Regions from separate parts of the Homo sapiens genome. Here region 2 is linked to region 1. Evidence: fine-mapped expression QTL. A gene starts in region 1. The other region holds a variant in brackets. All regions are shown on one strand. Distances are from middle to middle.

What was found.
Region 2: its variant is fine-mapped to the expression of CCNYL1 in whole blood (TOPMed, PIP above 0.99).

Annotation. Positions count from the first base shown.
Region 1 is chr2:207,710,033-207,712,943 of GRCh38, forward strand. It overlaps CCNYL1 (cyclin Y like 1), which reads left to right and starts at 1,608. Exons shown (of 10, transcript NM_001330218.2): 1 at 1,608-2,084. The coding sequence starts at 1,865. RefSeq lists enhancers at 800-999, 1,010-1,059, 1,412-2,408 and silencers at 1,280-1,729, 2,150-2,259, 2,272-2,431.
Region 2 is chr2:207,754,012-207,756,922 of GRCh38, forward strand. CCNYL1 (cyclin Y like 1) reads left to right here. Exons shown (of 10, transcript NM_001330218.2): 10 at 1-2,163. MIR4775 (microRNA 4775) reads left to right here and starts at 796; the gene lies at 796-870. The variant C/T (reference allele first, on the strand shown) is at 1,347.

The DNA.
Region 1 (2,911 bases):
ATTTTTGTGTTTTTAGTAGAGACGGGGTTTCTCCATGTTGGTCAGGCTGGTCTTGAACTCCTGACCTCAAGCAATTCACCCGCCTCTGCCTCTCTAAGTGCTGGGATTACAGACGTGAGCCACCGCGCCCAACAAGAGCAAAACTCCGTCTCAAAAAAAAAAAAACAAAAAAAAAACAATCCCATTTTGCAGGTTTTATAGAAGAAATTGGGACGCAGAAGTTAAGTTACTTCCGCAAGCTTACATGACTGCTCAGGGTGAGGGTCCCTGATCATGATGATCAGAAAATAAAGGTAGAAATCAAGCTTAGGGAGGAAGTGACATTGTGTGTATATATATATATTTGTTTATTTATTTTTATTTTTATGTTTTATTTTTTTGAAACGGAGCCTAGGTCGCCCAGGCTGGAGTGCAATGGCGCGATCTCGGCTTACGGCAACCTCTGCCTCCCGGGTTCAAGTGATTCTCCTGCCTCAGCCTCCCGAGTAGCTGGGAATACGGGCGCGTGCCACCATGCCCGGCTAATTTTTTGTATTTTTAGTAGAGACGGGATTTCACCGTGTTAGCCAGGATGGTCTGGATCTCCTGACCTGGTGATCCGCCCGCCTCGGCCTCCCAAAGTGTTGGGATTACAGGCATGAGCCACCGCGCCCGGCCGGGATTGTTTTTAAGGGTTAAATAAATATACCACAGTTGGAACACTGTCTGGCACATAGTGCTTGCCAAATGGTAACTATTCATCTTCATGGAATCAAGACTGTGGTGCCCCACTGCATGGTTCTCAGTTTTGCGTGAGAAAATCGTGCTTTCTGTGCTGTTTTTAGTACAAGAAGAGAAACCTGGAAGTCCCTGCCTAGAGGAGAGAAACAGGCAAGAAAAGGGAGTTGGCGAGTCCCAGCATTTCAGAGTTGGCAGGGACGAGTTAGGTCCCTATTTTATGGATGAGGAAGTGGAAGGGTGACGTGTCCTCGAGTCTCATTCAAGACCCACAGCCACAACTCTTTATGGAGAGTAGGACCAGGGCCCCAGGGTTGCTATGATCACGTTGCAGGTGAAAACTAACGCTCATTGGAAGACAGGAGCGGAGCACTGAGTTACAAAAACAGTTAACAATTTGGGTGTAACCAAGTTTAGTGAGCAAACGAAAGCTGTCAGACTCGGAAGAAGAGTTGCTAATGGAGCGAACTCTTTACTAATAACGGCTTTCTACAGAGATCATTGACACAGCTTCCAGTTACAAATGCCCGTGCGCTTCCAGTAGGACCGGAAAGCTCCCAGCAGCCAGCGATGAATGAAAACCCGAGTCTGGGATAGCGGCGTGAGGGGCTGGGCAGCTGCCAGGCGGGGGCGGGGCAGCAGGTCACGTGCCTGGCTTCGAGGCGGGCGCCGGAGGGGGAACTCTGACCATGATTGGTTCCTCCTAACCAGGTGACCGCAGGTCGCGTTCCGGTTGGCAGGCACCGGCCAGGGCCAGCGGCCTTCAGTCGGTAGGCGGCGGCGGAAGGAGGAGGAGCTCCAGCCGCGCTCTCTCCCGGCAGTGGCTGTGCTTCACAGCGCTTGTTGGGTTCCCCACCCCTTTTAAATAAGCCGGGCTGGTCACCGCCCTCGCAGACGAGTCAGCTTAAGGGAGGCGGCGGCAGCGCGGCGGTGGGGGTGCGGCCGAGGCCCGAGCCCTGCCCGGGGCCGGGCCGCGGGGCGGGCGGGCGAACCGCGGGCGAGGCGGCGTCTGCTTGCGCGGTGCAGCCCCAGCGTAGCCCGGGGCTGCCGGTGCCGGCCGCGCCATTGTTGGGGGAGGGGGCGGCTGTTGAGGGCGGCGGAGTAGGGGGCGAGCGAAGGCGGTGGCAGAGAGGAGCGGAGGCTTCCCATGGGGAACACGCTGACCTGTTGCGTGTCCCCCAATGCCAGCCCCAAGCTGGGCCGGCGCGCGGGGTCGGCGGAGCTGTACTGCGCGTCCGACATCTACGAGGCGGTGTCCGGGGACGCGGTGGCGGTAGCGCCCGCTGTGGTGGAGCCTGCCGAGTTGGATTTCGGAGAGGGCGAGGGCCACCACCTGCAGCACATCAGCGACCGCGAGATGCCCGAAGGTAAGGAGGCGGCGGATGCCATCCGCCCTCGGGCTCACCTCTGCCCGCCTCCTCCCCCAGAGTCCCCCGGGAGGCATCCGCCGCCTCGGGCTCCTTCCTGCCGGTAGCCGGCCCCGGGACGAAGGCTGGTTCTGCCTCGCGTCCCCACCCCTTATTCTTGCCCTGCTGCGTCTGGCCAGTTTCTTTTCCTCCTCCTTACCGTAACGCCCAGTTCTTGCTCCCGCTTCCCATTCTCCCAAGCCGGCGTGGGACCCTCTAGTCCGCCGCCCTTCTTGTTTGTAGCTCTGTTCATTGTCTGGTGGGACTTTGCTAAGACTTTTGGGGTATATTGTTTTCCTTTTCTCAATGGAAACTCAAATACCTCAACTTCGGAGTACTCATCCCATTCCCTCCCTTAACCCATCCAGATGGTACCTAAGTGAAGGAACCAGGTAAGGGTCTGATTGTTCCTTCCTCCCATCCGTGAAGATAGCTGATGCCCGCGACAGTTTAGACCCAGATGTTTGAGGATTTCTTATCTAGACTCAAAATAGAGGTTGCCATAGGAGACACTATATGGTATTCCTAATAGGTTAAGTCGGCGTGAAAGAAGCTGCTTTATTCCTTCCAACTATAATTTGAACACAGAAAGAAAGAAAATGGGGGGAGGGGCGTAAAATGACTGTGAAGGGTGTGAGAGGTTATTACCAGGGGTGCAGACAAGTTGTTTTTTTGAGACGGAATCTCGTTTTGTCGCCCGCCCAGGCTGGAGTGCAGTGGCGCGATCTCGGCTCGCTGCAACCTCCGCCTCTCGGTTTCAAGCGATTCCTCTGCCTCAGCCTCCCGAG
Region 2 (2,911 bases), 44 kb after region 1:
TTAAACAATAGTTTAAATTTTTAGACTTTAAAGACACTAACCATATAACTTTTATGTTTCTTCCAGTTTCTCTCCCTCCCCCCGCATTTTGCTGCATATGCCTTTAAAATCAATGCAGTATTACCATTAAAACATGGGACTCTAACTAAAGCCACTTAGGAGCAGACAGCAGCGTTGTTAGGTACTGAAGGGTTCTTCCTCCCTACTGTTACCATTGAAGCTGCTAGTCATTGGCAATCATTTTAAACCAAAAAGCTGCTGGATAACATTTGTCATTCATATTCTTTGCAAGCATTACTTTAGCATTTTAGCATGTTTGGGGTCATAAACAGAGGAAGTATCAGTTATTGATATCTACTTCTATTGGAGTCCATGTTGCATTTCTTGTGAACTATAAATGGTGCTTCTCATTTTCTGATAATTTTTCTCTTGCTAAATAAATGTATTAAAAGATATTTTCATAATGCCAACCAACATGGTGGTTCAGTGACGATGAGAAAAAGTGAAGCAGTTTTAAGCTTGAATATAGTTTGGGCCCTCCAAGGCACTGCAGCATGAGTATAAATGCTATAAACCTTTAAAAAACATGATTTGAAAGTTTTTTGTTTTGTTTTGTTTGTTTTTAAAGAGATGGGGGTCTTACTGCGTTGTCCAGGCTGGAGTGCAGTGGCTTTTCACAGGTGCAATCATTGTGCACTCACTGCAGCCTAGAACTTCCTGGTCTCAAGCCATCCTCTAGCCTCAGCCACACAAGTAGCTGGGACTACAAGTGCAACTGGCACCTGTCTCCTGAATATTAAGCTTTTAATTTTTTGTTTCGGTCACTCTTGATAGCAGACATTGACTGAAACAAAAAATTAAAAGCTTTATATTCAAAATTTGCAAAATGAAGCTGGGTGTGGTGGTGCACGCCTATAGTCCCAGCTACTTGGGAGGCTGAGGCTGGAGGATTGCTTGAGGTCAAGTATTGGAGGCTGCAGTGTACCATGATGGTGCCTATAGGAATAGCTACTACACTCCAACCTGGACAACGTTATCAAGACCCCATCTCTTAGAAAAATGCAAAATTAAATGCAAAAGAAATGGGCTGGGCATAGTGATTCATGCCTGTAATCTCAGTACCCTGGGAGGCTGAGGTGGAAGGATTGCTTGAGTGCAGGAGTTCAAGACCAGTCTAGGCAACATAGTGAGACCCTGCCTGTAAAAAAAAATAATAAAAATAGTTGGATATGGTGGCATGTGTCTGTAGTCCCAGCCACTCTGGAGGCTAAGGTGGGAGGATCAGTAGAGCCCAGGAGGTCAAGGCTGCAGTGGGCCATGATCATGTCACTGCTCTCCAACCTGGG[C/T]GACATCCAGACCCTGTCTCAAAGAAAAAAGCAGAAGAAAAATGTTCAGACAAGGTTTTGTAAAGGTTTGTAGCATTTATATTTCTACAAGTATCAAAGCTTAAAATTACACTGAACTTTTGGAATACCTTGTATCTCCATAAAATGCCCTCTTTTTAAAAGTAGTTACCCGCAGAGCTGTGCTCTATATGCTTTGATTACCGCAGTTTCTTTAAAGGAAGATTTTGAAGAGCAGTGTTAATTAACATGTAATAAAAGGAATTGGACCCTAATTATAGAAGGTGATATGAACAGCTGTTTTATCATCCTACATGCTACCAAGCTGTAGGTGTCCCATTAAGTCCTGCTATTTAAGAAATACTTACATAACCCTTAGGAACTCTTCAGGCTTTAAAAGGCAAGGAGCAAATAATTTTAGGAGACCGATAATGTCACCTAAATTTGAAATACTAAGAAGAGGTTAGTGTTCTCAACTATGTGAAATCTGTTTCTCCTACTTTCTCAAATCTAATCCTAGGAATCTTGCTTATAAACAAAGCATTTCTGGGACAGGAGTACTTCCTCTATTATAGCAATGCTTCACATCATATTGTGCTGCAGTTTCCATCATTTTTAAAGGACAGAGACATAAATGATAAATAATGGTATACAAATATTACAATCTACCACCTCAAAAAAACAAATATTGTTTATGGAATTCAGAGTTTGGAGATTCAAGTATTGATTGCAGTTTTATTTTGAAAAGAATGCTACAATTTATGTGGTTTTTATTTCTCATGTTTATATTAAAAGCTAATAAACTCTATTTTAATTAAAATATGGCTAGTGTGTTTGTAACACTTCTATCCACATAGTGTTACATCTCTGCCCAGCCTAGTTTTAAGTCAATCCTGATATGTCTTAAAGCATTTTCAAACCAACCATAAGTTGATTTGATCCATGCCTCTAGTTAAGATGTAGTGATCCATTTCTTTTGCATATGCTCTTTTCAACCTGAAGATAATTTATTACACTTAAAATCACTGACCACAATACTTAATGGCATAGTGCATTAGATGGCATCTTGAATAGTTGGTTATCGTGTCTGAGAGGGAAAAGCACATTAGAATATAAAATTAAGCAAAATGTATCAAAGAGAAAGGAATTAAAGGAATAGCGTAGAATTAGAACAAGAGGTATTTGAGGTTTTCAGACAAACAGGAAAGAGAATGGAAAGACAGGAACTAGAATTTGTGTTGCTGTTGAGAGGATGTCTTAAGCCACATAATTTGACTTTAATGTGCTATTTTCAAGCTTACATTTCAGTTAAAAATATACCAAGTCACTATTAGGTTTCTTTAGAACTAAGAGTCTAGCCACTCAGCTTTAGCAATTCTCAATAAATCCTGATAGCATTGCAATATTTTCATCCACTTTAATTCTTCATTACCTAAAGTCAAATATTTAAGTAAATGATCACAGTCAGGCACGGTGGCTCACGCCCGTAATCCCAGCACTTTGGGAGCCCAAGGTGGGTCGATCACTTGAGGCCAAGAGTTTGAGACCATCCTGGCCAACATGGTGAA